Linked DNA regions of Homo sapiens: regions 1 and 2 are each linked to region 3. Evidence: fine-mapped expression QTL. A gene starts in region 3. Each other region holds a variant in brackets. All regions are shown on one strand. Distances are from middle to middle. Region 1 has its middle 22 kb from the start of SCARA5. Region 2 has its middle 22 kb from the start of MIR3622B. Region 3 holds the start of SCARA3 (scavenger receptor class A member 3).

Region 1 (5,598 bases), 380 kb after region 3:
GCTCAGTGTCTCTCTGTTCTCAGTGGGCTGTTAAAAACGTAACTGCACATCCCTGATCCACATACACAGTCTGCTGCTTATAGGAGAACTTCTCAAGTTTTAGGGTTCTGAATTATAAGGTCTCCAAAGCATAGAACACATGGGGTTCTAGAACTTGAATTTATGTTACAATAAAGCAGTGATTAAAAAAAAAATACTCTAAGTCTGAGCTCTACTCCCAGAGATTCTGATATTGGTGTCTGGAGTGGGATCCACTTGGGCATGAGGATTTCAAAAAGCTTCCCAACTGCTTTAAAAGTGCAACCGAGGTTGAGAACTATGCCCTAAGATACACACAAATACAGCAAATAAATGCCATTATCAAAATTATAAGAATGGAGCAGTCTCAGTGAGGTGTAAAGAAATGTGTGGCTAAGCACAATCCTCCATTGTCATCAATCCCTGCTTTCTGATGTTGGCTCCACCCAACTGGGCTTGAGTAGGAATCTTTAACTCATCTTGAACTCTTTCTAAGACACTAGTAGTTCCAGAGTTTTCAACAATTCTACCAGGTTTTTATAAACTTCTTTCTTTTACCACAGGTTTTGATTTCTCTGAGACAGAGAGAGAGAGAAAGTGAGAGAGGGAGGGAGGGATGGAGAAGGAAAAGAGAAAGAGGGGAAGGGAAGAGAGAGGGCAAAGAGAGAGACAGGAGAGAGAGGGAGAGAAAGAGAAAGGATGGGGGGAGAGAGAGAAGGAAGAAAAGAGAAAGAAGGAGGGAGAAAAGGGCAAGAGAGAGGGCAAAGAGGGAAGAGAGAGGGAGAGAGAAAGGGAGAGATGGGGAAGAGAGAGGGAGAAAGATAGAGAAAGAAGGGGGGAAAGAGAGGGAAGAGAGGGAGCATGGACAGAGGGAAAGAGACAGACAGGGAGGGAGAGAGGGGGAAGAGAGAGGGCAAAGAGGGAAGAGAGAGGGAGAGGGAGAGATGGGGAAGGAGAGGGAGAAAGAGAAATGAGGGAAAGAGGAGGAAGAGAGGGAGCAAGGACAGAAGGAAAGAGAGAGACAGGGAGGGAGAGAGGGGGAAGAGAGAGGGCAAAGAGGGAAAAGAGGGAGAGGGAGAGAGAAAGGGAGACATGGGGAAGAGAGAGGGGGAGGGAGAATGAGAAGGAAGGAAAAAATGGGAGGGGGGAAGGGGCAAGGAGAGAGAGACAGTGAGAGAGAGGAAGCAGTTGCCTTGGGCCCTGAGTCTCAGGCAGCAGTGACAGCTTCCTCCCTACCAGCTAAACAGGGCCTTTTCTTGTCTTCTAGCTTGAGGCAACATCTGCCTTTCCTCCCCAGTGGTGCCATAACAAAAGCTCATGGCCATATAACCCGTCAACTTGTCTGTCCTCTTTCCAGCATCAAGAATCCACGTTTCTTCCAGAGGGAAAAATAAAAGAAAGAACTTTTATAGACACAATGCAGCAAGATTTGAAAATATAGACTTAACATGGTTTTGATCATAGAGGGTATCTAGAATGCAGACACAATGCAGCAAGATTTGAAAATATAGACTTAACATGGTTTTGATCATAGAGGGTATCTAGAATGCCGTCCCATCCAGATTTCAGAGATCAATATCAATTTTCTCTTTGTCCCTAATCAGATCACAGTATGTGGTTGAGATAAGTGGGGTGTATTGAGTTATGGGGTGGTACTCAGACAGAAGAAAAAGACACAAACTCATCTTATTCTGGGCAGTTCAATTGGAATGGAAAGAAAGGGAAAAGGAATGAAGGAAGAACCCAAGGTCAGCTGCTAACGCTGCCTGCACATGGTATGATGCCTTCAGAGCAAATGATAACATGGCGCTCTTTTCAATGCTCTCCTTGGCATGGAGATGCTGATGTTGTATTTTAATAATATAATAACACTTCAATTAACCAGCCTTACAGCCATGCTCCACAGACAACACATTCCTTCATGTCATCTGGTGCTTTTTATTATTACACTTTGGATGATGTGTCCTCAACAAGGATCATTCCTCTCCTTTCTTAAGCAGAGCTTATTGGTTATAATTTAACATTGGAAATGAGCAAGAGTCACCATTTATGATGATTGTAAGGTACTTGTGCAGGATGAAAGTGGCATCTCCCAAGGGAGAGACCGGGGATCAGAAAGGAGCTACTCTAAGCTGTTATTTATCTAAGCTGCACCACCCCGTGGAGATGGATAAGACAGGGCCCATCTCTGTTTAAGTGGTGGCTTTAGTGATATCAGCCCGGAACAGGGTGGAGAAGAGGCCCCTTAGCAGGATCATGCCGAGAAACAGGGTCCAAGAGTAAGCCCTCCTCATACAGGACGAGGCAGTGTTGTGTCCTAAATGATAATAATAATTGCTTTGGAGAGATGTGCTTGCCCACAGATAACCTACAAAGCCACAGTTCTTGCTGGAGATGCTGAAGCCATGGGATTAGAGTCCATTTCTCCCATGTCAGAGTTGACAAACCTGGACAGAGGAGGGTCTCCACTGATTTTTGGCCAAAGCCTGAGCTCTGGAGTTTTCCACTGACAGATGGAGAAGGGTAGAGTTCCCAAAGCAAGGGGCGTGGGGATCCCGGGCAGGAGACCTGCAGAGGGGCTGTTAGGAGCAGAGACAGTGAGCGGTCAGGAGAAAGATAGCCTTGGAAGGTCTCAGCCTGGGAGATTCCTCTCCTTAGCCACAAGGGCCCAGGCTCTTGTCCTCCCCTGCTGTGCAGGGAAACAGCCACCTGGCCCTTCGGTGGTTCAGCCAGACTAGGGAGACAGAGAAGCTTGAGATGGGAAGGTATTTGCTTCCTGATTGCCACAGGCTGAAATGCAGTTAAGCGTCAACCCCATTTCTCCCCTCCTCCACCCACACTTAAAAAATATCTTTGGTCGTGCCACCCTGACCCCTGGAAGCCATAAACAGGCGATATTCCAGGCCAAATGGCTGAGAGACTTGTCACTGATTGTCCTCAACCTCCCTGCCCTGCATACTCACCTCCTGGGCTACAAAAGATCACCCCTCAGGGCAGAAAGTGAGGGACTCTTCTCTGCACCCACGATAGACCGTGTGGGTCTTTAGTTTCTAGTTTCCTCCCTCATTGTCAAGCTGTCAGTGTTTTTTTATTATTATTCTTATGAAAAAGGGACAGGGGGCACTGATGAGGTTGTTTTAGCCAAAGATGCATAGTCTAAACCCAATCACGAAGAGACATCAGACAAACCCACATATTATAAAACAGCTGGCCTGTACCTCTCAAAAATGTCCATGTTATGAAAGGTAAGGAAAGGCTGAGGAAATGTTCTAGATTAAAGGAATCAAAGAGACGTGATAAATACATGTAACACAGCATCCTGGGCTGGATACTCTACTGGAAAATGTTGGCAATACCGGCTATAACTAGGGCAACCGATGATATTTGAATGCAGATTATAGATAAAATGATAGTATC[T/A]TACCCATAATCAATGTTGAATTTTCTGAATTTGATCATCATACTAGGGTTATGTGAGAAAGTGTACTTGTTTTTGGGGAATACCCAAAAACATTAAGGGATAAAGGAACATGACATATGCAACCTACTTTGAAATCATTCAGAAAAAGTATGCACAAAAAGTATGCACAAATAGACACACACGGACAGGCAAAGAATGATACAGCAAAGCAAATGTAGCAAAATGTCAACAAGTTGATACAGTGTCTGTAGGAGTTCTTTGTACTATTATTGCAACTTTTCTGTAAGTTTGAAATTCTTTTGAAGAAAAAAGAAAAATATCAAAAGAAAGTGATGGGGAACTCCAAAAGAAAAGATCATGGAAGGACCCTTTAAATAGAAGCAATTCATATAGAAACTAGAGGAGTTAAAAAAAAAAAAAAAAGAAGTAAATAGAAGCAATTCAAATAATAGGAAAAATGTTCAACACCACTAACAAACCAAGTAGTGCAAGGTGGTACTTTTTAAAATCTCATCCCATTAACCTACTGCAGAAAAGGATAACAACCACTTTTGGTGAGGAATCAGTGACACAGGAACTCTCGTCCCTGCTCGTAAATGGACAGTGTTTCTGAAAAACAACTTGAGACTTTAAAATGCTTTTAGACTCAGACCTTGTAATAGAATTCTTAAAAACTTATCCAAAAGAAAAAAAAATCAGAGCTAGGGACAGAGATTTATATCTAAGCATATTCTCTATGATGTTATTTACAATGGAGAAAAACAGCATGATTTAAGTGTCCAAAAATAGCACAAAGGATAAATAAATAACACGTGTATATAGGAAAATACTGTGTAGTCATTTAGAGCTGTGTTTCAAAAAAACATTGTTTTCCCTGGCACAATCCTGCCCACCTCCCAACCTTCTCTCACTCTAGCCAGTCCACCCCTCTTTCCTGGGAAGATGAACCTGCTAGGACTTCAAACTCACCACGGAGCCCTTGGGGCACATTAAGGATCACAACAAAAGACTTTTGCTCGCAATTTTAACCTATTGATCCAGCAGCCCTTTATCCTGAATCTCCTGCTTCTGGTTCCTGAATCCTCTTGATTCTACCCTTGGCTTTTGAGGTTTTTCTTCTTTTATTGCATTGGTCTGAATTTCTGTCCTGGATTTATGTCAGTATCAGCCTGAAGCCTCTCACCAGGACTCAAGATGTTGCCCCAGGTTCTTCCCCTTTTGCTCCACTCTGCCAGTGCAGCCTTCCTGACTGACAGCTCTGCGTTGCATTCTTCAGGCAGTTAACACACAGCCCCACTGCCAGTGCCAGCTCTGACTTTCTAAGCTCTGGCTGGAGTTAACTCCTTGGCTTCCGATACCAAGGAGGTAATTTTATTTGGTGAAAACTAAGATTTGGAGCAGAGAGATATAAATCTAACACGATCTTAGTCCACAGCCCTCACTTGTCTCACGGGTTATTTAGAAGTGTGTTGTTTGGTTTCCAAATATTTGAAGACTTTTCCAGATTTCTTTTTGTTATTGACTTCTAATTTAATTCCACTGTGGTCAGAGAACATACTCTGTATGAGTTCCATATTTTAAAATTTATTGAGACTTATTTTATGACTCAGGATATGGTCTATCTTGGTAAATGTTCCATGTACACTAGAAATTAATGTGCACTCTGATGTTGATTACAGAGTATTCTATAAGTCTCAATTAGGTAAAGTTAGTTGATACACTGTTCAATTCTTTAATATCCTTACTGAGTTTTTCTACTTGTTCTATCAGTTATCAAGAGCGGGTATTGAGATTTCCAACTATAATTATGGATTTGGCTATTTCTCCTTTGAGTTTTATTAGCTTTTGCTTTGTGCATTTTGAAACTTATTAGGTGCATAACTAGGATTATTATGTCCTCTTGATGAATTAACCACTTTATCACTATGCAGTGATGATCCTCCTTATCATTAGTAATATTCCTTGCTCTGAAATTTACTTTGTCTAATATTGATATAGAAACTCTGTCTTTAGATTAGTATTTACAAATATCTATCTTCCATCCTTTTACTTTTAACATATTTATGTCTTTATATTTAAAGTGGGTTTCTACCAGACAACATATACTGAGGGCTTCTTTTTAAAAAATCTAACTTGGTAACCTCTGCCTTATTTAATTAGTG
Region 2 (5,598 bases), 90 kb after region 3:
CCTCCCTCCCCACCTCCCTCATTTCATGAGTAAGGCCATTTTAAGAACATCCAAGCTTCTTACTTTTTTAGAAGCTCTATTCCACCTCACATCAAATGCAATAAAATTTACTCATATTATGCATTAAATAAATATACATATATATCTGTATTTGCTGTAAAATTTTGAAGTTTTTAGAGACTTTGCTTTCAAAAATTTTATTTACTCAACCAATATTATTGAGTACCTACTATGAACCGGGCACTGTTCTAGGCATTGGGGACAGAGAAGTAACAAACATTTCAGGTCTTATGGAACTTATTTGGGGTTGAGTCCAACAAATAGATAGAAAATATATACAGTATGGTAGATAAATGTCATGGATAAAAATAAAGCAAGAAATATAAAGAACAAAAGAATGAGGCAAGATTGGTTTATTGTCCATGAACAAGGGTTTTTAAATGGTTGGTTCTGGCCTTTAGAGTGATAAAAGACAATTGAGATTCATCCCAATGGCCTCAAGTTAGATGGTGTCGGTGAGACTGAGGTGGAATGGGGGTCTTGCCAGGAACACCCAGGACCCTGGAACTCACCCTTAACTTAGGGATAATGCTGATGTTTGGCTTTGAGCAACCCAGTTTACAAATGACCATGATTCCTCAGTAATCAAAGTGCACTTCCAATTTACAAGTCTAAAATGAAATAAGGCCAGGTGCAGTGGCTCTTGCCTGTAATCCCAGCACCTCGGGAAGCCAAGGCAGGTGGATCACTTGGCCAAACTCTCAAACAGGAGTTTGAGACCAGCCTGGGCAATGTAGCGAGATGCCGTCGCTACAAAAAAGAAAAAATACAAAAATTAGCCAGGAGTGGAGGCATGCGCCTGTGGTCCCAGCTACTCAAGAAGCTGAAGTAGGAGGATTGCTTGAGCCTGGGAGGTCAAGGCTGCAGTAAGTTAATGATAGCATCACTGTGCCCCAGCCTAGGCAACAGAGTGAGATCCTGTCTCTAAATGAAATGAAATATTTATGAATGCTAAATCTAGATGTAAGGATGATATGGTAGCATGACATTTGTAGACATTAATTAAATATGTATTCGATTGTGGTTTCTATTTGAATCTAGAAGCCAGTACATTTTTCCAAGGTCTCATACATTTTTTGCATGCTCCTGAAAAGCTTGCAAGTATTGTGCAAATGGACTAACTGTCCTTTTGCACAGACTCCCACACTTGGGACAGGTACTCCTGTAGATGTGAAGATGCATGAAGACACAGGCAGCCTTGCCCACAGAGAGCTCATGGTTCATGTTCACAGCTACTCTGGGCTTCTGCATCTATAAAAAAAGAGGTCAGATTCACCCCATAGAATGATTGTGAGGCTTCAACAAGATCACCCCTGGCCCTCACACAGACCTCCAAACCCTCGTGCCTCCATCCATAGTATCCACAACATGTCTTCTCCAAAAGCCACCCACAGTTCTCTGCTGTGCTCTGCCCCTGGCCATTGGCCTCAGACCCATTCTCTAATGGCTCTTGAGCTGCTGTCAGAAAGCCCTACTATCCCCAGCCTTATCACTGCAAATTTCCATTCATTTTCAAGCCTTTTTCTCCTTAGCCTTTCTCCTTAACCAAAGCAGCTTTCTCCTATCCATCTCCCCTCACCATAACATTGTATGGCCAAGTAGGAAACCACGCCTTGTTTTCTGCTGCTTCCCCAGACTGTTACCCACCATTGACACTGAAGGTCACACCATCTGGTCCTGTTACTTTCTCCAACAGGGTATCCCTTTTCTCCTAGTGACCCCGGCACCAGGTCCACTTGTCCCTGACTTCAGGTGATATGGCCGCCCCACCTGAACCCATCTCTCCCTCCCACCAGCACACTGGGCTCCCTCTTCGGCAGCAGGCAGCATTGCTTCCCCAGAATACATCCCAACATCAACCACGCTGTGCATCTGCTGCTTAGTCTCATACTTGGTGGTGGCTTCCCTTTCCTTCCATAACCCACTTATCTCTTGGACAGATCCCCAATCACGTTACTTGTCCCATTTTCACCTGTCCATACATTTTTAAAATATATATTTGATTTCCTTCTTGCGGGGCCTGGAGCCCCTCAGCCCCTCTGATGCTGCCCCACAAATGACCTGAACTCCTTGAAGTTCACCCCTGAGCTGATGCATCCACAGCCCTGGGCTATCTTGTTTTCTTTCTTCTCTCCTGTTCCTTGGCTCCGAATTGGCAGGTGGAGAAAGTTATCATTCCATGCTAAATGGACCGACTACAAAATTGTTCTAACTCTACCACTTCCTTTTGGCAACCTTCTGATTCATTTCTTGTAAGAGTGAGCTTTTCGTCACGCACTGACTGTCTCAATCTTTCCCCTTCATCCTTAGAGTCTTAATCTCACTCCGACTGCTGATTTCTTACAAATTACTTCATCTACCACGTTCTGGAAGCCAATCATTAAGAGCTTTGTCCCAGTCGATCCCTTCTCTGTACTAAAAATACCTCTTGTCCTCTCCAACTCCTAGCTTCCTGGCCCAGATGACGGACACCCCAGGTACTGAAAACTTGTCAGTGGAGATTTCTCAAGTGTTATTTGTGAACTTTGAGCAACCATGGAAAGCAAGACTAGGTATCAAAAAGTGCAGTTCTTTTTGTTGTTTGTTTCAGAGACAGAGTCTCGCTCTGTC[T/A]CCCAGGCTGGAGTGCAACGGTGCGATCTCAGCTCACTGCAACCTCTGCCTCCTAGGTTCAAACGAGTCTCCGACCTCAGCCTCCCGAGTAGCTGGGAGTACAGGCACGTGCCACCATGCCGAGCTAATTTTTGTATTTTTAGTAGAGACAGGGTTTCACCACGTTGGCCAGGCTGGTCTCGAACACATAGCCTCAAGTGATCCACCCGCCTCAGCCTCTCGAAGTGCTGGGATTATAGGCGCAAGCCACTGCACCTGGCCTGGAAAGGGTAGTTCTTATTTTCCAGAGGTCAACAGTGAATTCCCACAACTCTCGGCTTGATGACTTGCCATCAATCACAGGCAAAATTATAGAAACCAAAGGGCTGCTTTATGTTATTTAGAAAATAGTACAGCAATTACTAGGAGTCAATACAAGTTCTCAAAGCCTCATTCCTTTTTTATTTTTTATTTTTGGCAGGGTTGCTAGACTGGTAGATCAGGAAGACGCCATAAATATATTTTATCTGGCTCTAAAGCAAGGTTGTTTTTTGACAACCATGTGAGCAAGTAGGAGAATATAGTCCAGATTAAAGTAAAATCAGGAGGATTAAAACTGGTCAAGTGTGGCCGGGCACAGTGGCTCAAGCCTGTAATCCCAGCCCTTTGGGAGGCCGAGGCGGGCAGATCACAAGGTCGGGAGTTCGAGATCAGCCTGGCCAACATGAATTCTGTCGCTACTAAAAATACAAAAATTAGCTTGGTGTGGTGGCAGGTGCCTGTAATCCCAGCTACTTGAGAGGCTGAGGCAGGAGAACCGTTTGAACCCGGGAGGCAGAGGTTGCCGTGAGCCAAGATCGCACCATTGCACTCCAGCCCTGGCGACAGGGCAAGACTCCTTCTCAAAACAAAACCAAACAAAAAACTGGTTAAGTGTGCCCAAAGAGTGCTAAGTAATGGATTAACCTCAGTCAGAAGGGATGTTTGCTGAAGGCACTATTCTGAGACCTATCCCATTCTTCCAAATTTTGGGGGGTGACAATATAGAAGGAATATTTACAAACATGTACATATATTTGTAAAAGGAATTATGTTCAAGGAAATAATGAGAACCATAAATAACTCAATAGGCAGATTCCAACTAGATGTCTTTGACAGAGAAAATTCATCAAAACATAATATTGACTGAAAGTAGCAAGTCATAGAAAAAACATTACAATAAGATTCCATGAATGAGTTTCAAAATAGGAAGAATCGGTGGTGGCTCACACCTGTAATCCTAACACTCTGGGAGGCCAAGGTAGGAGGATCACTTGAGCCTAGAAGCTTGAGACTGCAGTGAGCTGTGATTGCACCACTGCACTCCAGCCTGGGCAAGAGAGAAAGACCCTGTCTCTAAAACAAACAAACAAACAAAAACAGGTTGAACTAAACAGTGTATTATTTATAGAAATACACATCAGAGATAAAAGATATGAAGAAGAAGCAGATGATTATCACAAAATTCAGGAGAGCTGGGGGGAAGCCAGGCATGTGATTAGGAAAGGGTGCAAATGGGACTTTGAGGAAGGATGGGTGAGTACTGCTCTATTTCCTAACCTCAGAAATATAACATATAATATTTATATTATATTTATATTTATATTTATATTATCCTTGAAAATGAACATATCTTTTCATACACTCTTTTGTGTGTTTGTTACATTATATAGTAAAAAGAAATTTTAAGGAATAAATCTAAAGTTCTATACCATGGTCCAAACCACTGCCCCCTCCAAAAAAAAAAAAACCAGAATAATCTAATCAATACAAAGTGCAGAAAAGACAGGGGATTTAATGGGTGGTGTAAGTCAGAGTCAGGTGTCTAGGCTACATTTGGAGAATTGTCTCTACCCTATTCCTGTGCAGGCCAGCTGGGATCATGGTTGGGTTCATGGCTGGAGTCATGGCTGGAGACCATGCACAGTTCAAGAGCTGCTCCTTCCCTGGGAGTAAGCCAAACAGGGAAGAGTTGGGGGGTCTTGCCCCATGGGATGTCAGAAGCCATCCTCTGTCCGCAGATGCCTGCTTTTCCTGCTGTCTCGTTGGATCACAGAGAATGGGATGTTTAGGGGCAGTCACAGGTGGCAGCTGACAGCTGTCTTGAAACTTTTTAAACTGTCACATGAAAAGATGAATTCAACTTGTACTGTGTGGCTCCAGAGGACAGAGCAGCAGGTAGAAGTCACTGTGAGTCATGAGCTCCCGTCTCTGGATGCATTCATGCCCAGGCTTAGGTCTTCTGTTTAGGGAGTCGCAGAGGTCACAGTTAGGTCAGCTAAGATGACCCTTAAAGTCTCTTCCAACCTCCACAGGCTATGAGTCTATGAAACCTGTGCATGACATGCACAAAGGAAACATAGAAGCACTTTGGGAGCCCGTGGCAGGAGGATTACTTGAGCCCAGGAGTTCAAGACCAGCCTGGGTGACATAGCAAGACCTGCATCTACACAATTTTTAAAAATTAGCTGGGTGTAGTGGTGTGCATCTGTGGTCACAGCTACTCAGGAGGCTGAGGTGGGAGGATTGTTTGAGCCCAGGAGTTCAAGGCTGCAGTGAGCTATGATTGCGCCACTGCTCTCCAGCCTGGGCAACAGAGCAAGACATTGTCTCTTAAAAACAACAGCCAGGCGCAGTGGCTCATGCCTGTGATCCCAGCACTTTGGGAAGCCGAGGCGGGTGGATCACAAGGTCAGCAGTTCGAGACCAGCCTGACCAATGCGGTGAAACCCCGTCTCTACTAAAAATATTTAAAAAATTAGCTGGGCTTGGTGGCGGGCGCCTGTAATCCCAGCGACTTGGGAGACTGAGGCAGGAGAATTGCTTGAAACTGGAAGGTGGAGGTTGCAGTGAGCTGAGATTGTGCCACTGCACTCTAGCCTGGGCAATAAGAGCAAAACTCCGTCTCAA
Region 3 (5,598 bases):
ATACCTCAGTTTCCTCATCTGAAAAATGAAGGCAATAATGCTGCTTACTTCATAGAGCGGACATGAAGATTAAATAAGTTAGCATACAGGTAACCTCCAAGGTAAATAAGTTAGCATACAGGTAACCTCCAAGGTAAATAAGTTAGCATACAGGTAACCTCCAAGGTGACTATCTCCCTGGGGTTTACAAAACAGCTCTCCTGATCCATGCCCTAGTTGTGGGAGACTCAGATCATGCGGCAAACTCGGAACCCAGATACAGGTGACAGGAGCACATGACTGTCACCAGGCAGGCAATGCCCCCTCTAAACCTCAGTCTCCTCATCTGTAAAATGGGCAGCACAGTCCCTGGGATCCCCCTCTCAAGGTGGTTGTGAGGTTCTGCTGAGATCATGGAGAGAAGGGACTTCGCAAACTGTAAATTTGCCATGGCAAAATGGAGATTAGAGAGAACACAGCATCACCCTTGCTGATCTGATGGGATCTACAGACAGGGGTGGCTGTCCTTGTCCTCTTCTCTACTCCAGGCTTAGGAGACACTTTCTCTTCCCCTCGGGTCTCACCTACTTTACTTCAGCATTAAATAGGGCTTGGGGATGGGGAGATGGTGCTGACTGTGGCATCAGAAGAGACCAGGCTGGCCTGTGCCACTTTGTGGTCCCGTTTCTCCCTGCACTTTTCTTCTCATAACATTCATCCCACTTCTGCACTGCTGCTTGTTTAATTACTGGCTTTCCTAACCAGACTGGCCATGTGACATGTTCCTCACACTTCTGGAGCTTGGGGCAGAGCCTGGTCCCTTGTAGCGAAACCATTTTGGTATAGTCTGGCTGCCCTGTTTGCTTTTGGTTGCTTGCTTGCTTTTTGTTTTTCTGGTGAGTTTTTTTTGTTTTTGTTTTTGTTTTTGTTTTCTTTTTTCCATGAAGCTGAAGGCTACACCACTGAACACTGAAACTTAACCTTCATTCACTACTTTATAGGTAACATTCATAGGCCACCATGGTAATGATCTCTTCAGTTGTTTTTTAGGAACTTGGGCTAGCTCCTGTCCATCTCAAACTGGTGAGACCATTGGCCCTTCAACTGGGCAAGTGCCCCAAGAGGTGGGCTTTCAATGTCGGAGAGCCAAAAAACTCCACCCTTGGATCATGCTAACCCTGCCATTTTCTGCATATATGTCCTATGAAATACCATTAGCTCAGACTACATTGGCATGGAATGAACCTGTTTCTTCATTTGTCCCCACTGCCAATTGCCTTTCCCCATGGCTTAGACCACTCTACTTCCCTAACCCATAAATATCCTTAAGCCTGATCTTCTGGGAGGTGGATTTGAGAGCTGTTCTCCCACCTCCTCTCTTGGTGCCCTTGCCAATAAGTCTTTTTTCTCTTTTCTAAAACCCGTGTCACCTGATTGATTACCTGCAGGGGCAGCTTGCAGGGTGGGCAGATTGGACAGCGGACCTAGACCTGGCCGGCAGCTGGGAGCTCGGTAAATGTTTGTTCAATCAATGAAAAATGACACGTGAGAATCCTGAGTGGCGCTTATGACCAGTCTCAACTCCCTGCCTGCATTCACTTTCCTTGGCTGTCACTGTTTACCCCAGAGACCCCTCCACCAACAAAATCACAGAATTTGATGGCCAGGTGCAGTGGCTCAGGCCTATAATCCCAGCACTTTGGGAGGCTGAGGTGGGTGGACCACCTGAGGTCGGGAGTTCCAGACCAGCCTCCCCAACATTTTTAGTCTCTACTAAAAATACAAAAAAAAATTACCGGACGGGATGGTGCATACCTGTAATCCCAGCTACTCGGGAGGCTGAGGCAGGAGAATCATTTGAACCCAGGAGGCGGAGGTTGCAGTGAGCGGAGATTGCACCACTGCACTCCAGCTTAGATGGCTAGAGCCTCAAAAAAATAAAAATGAAAAATAAATCACAGAATGTGGCGCACTCCAGGCCCAATTCTCTCATGTAGAAAGAAGAGGCTTGGAGATGAGAACTGGATGCCCAAAGTCACTCAGCTCGCCAGGGGCAGAGCCAGGGTGCTCACAGGGTGGCCAACCTTCCACGTCTGCCCTGGACACGGGACTTTCAGTACTAAAATGTGCGGACGTCCTTCTCCCGGACGTCCTTCTCCCAGGCCCTCGACATCATAAGATGGGCGAGAAAAACGTGCAGGGCTAAAATCTGGGGTCCCCACCCCTGCCCCAGCCACTTGGCGGTCCCGATAGTGAAATGGACTAAGATCAAGGAGCTCTCCCGGTGAGCCCCCCCATTGCGGCCGCAGCGCGGGCAGGGAGGACGCCGCGGGAGCCCGGGTTCGAGGCTGGGCTGTGGGGCTGCGGGGGCGCACGGGCGAGGTAGGCGGGGCGCGGGGCCCCCGCGGCGGCACAAAGAGGCCGGCCGCGGCAGTTTTGAAAATACCAAGGAAGTTGATCTGGGCCGGGGCCCAAGAAGTGACGAGGAGGGAGGGAGGCTTGCGAGCGAGGGAGGAAAGGAGGGAGAGGGAGAGGAGAAGGCGGGAAGGAGGGAGGGAGGAAGGGTGCGCGGGGCGAGGGGCGGCGGCAGACCTCGCGGGGCCCCAGCGGGAAGCGCGGGCGGCGGCGGGATGCGCGCTCTGGGCGGCGGGGCGCGGCGCTAGGCGCCCGGCGGGGCTTCCCCAGGCTGCGACCCCGCGGGACCCTCCACTCCTCCCGCCGCCTCCGCAGCCCGCGCGCCGGAGCATGAGTCCCGGCCGGAGCCCCACGGCCGCGGGCGGCGCCTAGGACGGCGATCCGCGCCCTGGAGGATCCGCCGGCCGCCCGGCTCCACTACAGCTCCAGCCGCCTGCAGCGGGGCCCTCCTGAGGCCCCAGAGGAAGAGACCATGAAAGGTAAGGGCGGCCTGTCGGGGGCAGCTCCGAGGGGGGCCGCCTGCACCCCCGCTCCACCCAGGGCCTGGGGGGCGCCTTTTCTGCAGGCGAGGCTGAGAGGAGGGCAGGGCGCCTCTGGCTTTTCCCCTGCCTTTTTGGGCATCCTGCGAGACAGGACGGATCCCTGAAGACCAGAGGAAGCAAAGAGGAGAGGGAGGATGGGGACACTCACACACCCCCCCTTGCAGTCCTGTTCTCATCGGCCGTTGCTCTAACCTCACAAATAATTTTAAAATCCAGAGAAGTTTCTGATCCCTTTAACCAGTAGACGCAGAAAGGCATCACCAGCCCAACTTTCCAGCAGTGTAAATTTCGACCCTGGGGACCCATCAGAGAGGCCCCTGCATCCCCCACCGAGCCTTTCAACCGGGGGCCAGGCCTAGGATTCTCCCCCAGGACCTCCAGCCCTTCCCCAAAAGAGACCTGCAGTGTCAGAGCCCCTCAGCCCAGGCCCTGCCCTTCCCAACCCCTGAACCCTGCCTGACCCACCCTCTGACCTCCTTGGGAGGAAGCCGCCGGGGAAGCCCCATGGGCCAGGACTGACCTCTCCCCAGGGTGGTGAGCCAGCAGCAGGGTGGCCCTTGCAGCCAGTTCTTGGGATGGAAATAAGAACCAGACATGATCCCAAGTGGCCATTTCCAGGGCCTGGGTGTCTTTAGGCCCCTACTTGGTCTTCAAGGTCATTTTGAGGCTACAGGAGAAGCAGGCTTTGGAGTTATCTCATGAGGCAGGGAACCTCCGAGGTTTTGAACGCCATTTCGGGTGTCTTTCAGTAATCCTCCTGTAACACCCCCAGCAGATGCTTGTGTTCCTAGCAGTGAGAACCTCACCACCTCATCTGCTTATGGAAAGTAGAAACTGAAAAGGGCCTTTGAGATCATCTACAGGGCTCTCAACCACACTCTCAGGTGCCACTGACAGGTATGGAGGTGGAAGAGGTGGGGCCAGAGCTCTCAGCCTACTTCAACCAGAGCAGCTCTGTTTGTCTCTCATACAAAGAATGGCCTGAGGGTTCATTGGAAGAAAGGGCTCCACCGACAAACTTCTGACTGGATGCAGCCTCCGCATTGCATAGTTAGGGAAACTGAGGCCCAAGCAGGTAGGGCTGGCTTCATGGCTTCTGCAACCAGTGCCATCCTACAAGGTCCCACACTTGGTTTAATGCTCTGCAGGTGCTATCTTGAACTTTTTAAAAATGTATTTTATTTTGTTTTATTTTAGAGATAGGGACTCAATCTGTTGCCCATGCTGGAGTGCAATGGCATGATCATAGCTCACTGCAGCCTCAAACTTCTGGGCTCAAGTGATCCTCCCACTTCAGCCTCTCATGTAGCTGGTACTACTAGGACTACAGGTGTGCACCACCATGCATGGATTTTTTTTTTTTTTGATAGATATGGGGCCTTATTATATTGCCCAGGTTGGTCTATAACTCCTGGCCTCAAACGATCCTCCCACCTCAGCCTCCTAAAGTGCTGGGATTACAGCCTTGATCCACCATGAGGCCTGAAATTCTTATAATTTTTTAACAAGTCATCCCCTCCCACCAACACACAAACACACACACTTTCCTTTTACACTGGGCCCCACAAATTATGTAGCTGGTCCTGTGGACAGAAGTGAGTTGTTACAAATCACAGTTAGTCAGGGTGACTAGACCCCAGGACTCCTGACTTCTAGTCTAGAATCCACCTTGCCTCTTTGTGGCTTCCTTCCCTCTGCCTCTGGCACCTTCTTTCTGTGCTTCCCGTTGGCCTCCCCAAGTCCTAGGCTCTGCGGGATGAGCCAAGCAAGTTATAATCAGCCCTAGGGAGCACCTGGCAGGCAGTGAGGGGAGCCTCGCCCCAAGTCCTGCTCCTCACTGAGACACCTTTGCAGCTGAACCCTCTGCAGTCAGCTGGCCCAGGGCAGACCATTACTGGAAGCCTCCAGAAAGGTCTTGGACCACATCTTACACGGGGCCACACTGCCCTGGACCTTGATGATGGTGGTGAGATGTTTCACATTCTCAGAGTGGCTCCACCCCAATTCCAGACAAGCACCAGCAGGGTGTGGTGGCAGATACCTGTAATTCTAGCTACTCCGGAGCCCGAGGAGGGAGGATCGCTTGAGCCTGGGAGTTTGAAGTGTAATGAGCCATGATTGCACCACTGCATTCCAGCCTGGGCAACAGAGTGAGACCCTGTCTCTAAAAAAATAGAATTTATTTAAAAAAAGAGGCAGGGCCAAAATCCTGTGAAATAGAGAAGAAAAGAGCTGGTGTGAATGAATATTTAAAAAGAGGTGCCTGAGGAGGACCCGCTGACACCACGTTGCAGGGTTCCAGGCTCTCCTTGTGCTGTGGGTTCCTATACAGGAAGCCAAGCCCTGCCTCTCTCCTCCTTTCCCTTGGATCCCACAGCCTCTTCATGTGCCGAGCGGGATTCCTGTCTACGGAGGCCCTGAGGGCGGCGCTGGTGTGTTTTTCCTCCAGCCTCCGGAAACCCCTCAGTGATCTCCCATAACATCACAGGGGCTGCATGGGCTGCGGGGCTGGGGGCTGACTTCCAGCACTTCCCTCCCTGGCAGCCGGGAAGAGCCGCCCCTCTACCAGAGATGGAAATGGCAGGGCAGACAGCAAATAATTGGCTTCCGGGATCTGTGGGGTGTAAAGAACCAGGATTTTTCTCACTCGAGTGGAAAAAGT

What was found.
Region 1: its variant is fine-mapped to the expression of SCARA3 in esophagus muscle (GTEx, PIP 0.97).
Region 2: its variant is fine-mapped to the expression of SCARA3 in thyroid (GTEx, PIP 0.91).

What each region holds. Positions count from the first base shown.
Region 1 is chr8:28,012,251-28,017,848 of GRCh38, forward strand. No RefSeq gene overlaps it. Among named protein-coding and RNA genes, the nearest start is that of SCARA5, 22 kb to the left of the region's middle. The variant T/A (reference allele first, on the strand shown) is at 3,436.
Region 2 is chr8:27,721,105-27,726,702 of GRCh38, forward strand. It overlaps a transcript of SCARA3 not described here. Among named protein-coding and RNA genes, the nearest start is that of MIR3622B, 22 kb to the left of the region's middle. The variant T/A (reference allele first, on the strand shown) is at 2,671.
Region 3 is chr8:27,631,335-27,636,932 of GRCh38, forward strand. It overlaps SCARA3 (scavenger receptor class A member 3), which reads left to right and starts at 2,568. Exons shown (of 6, transcript NM_016240.3): 1 at 2,568-2,873. The coding sequence starts at 2,867. RefSeq lists enhancers at 2,202-3,031, 3,032-3,860.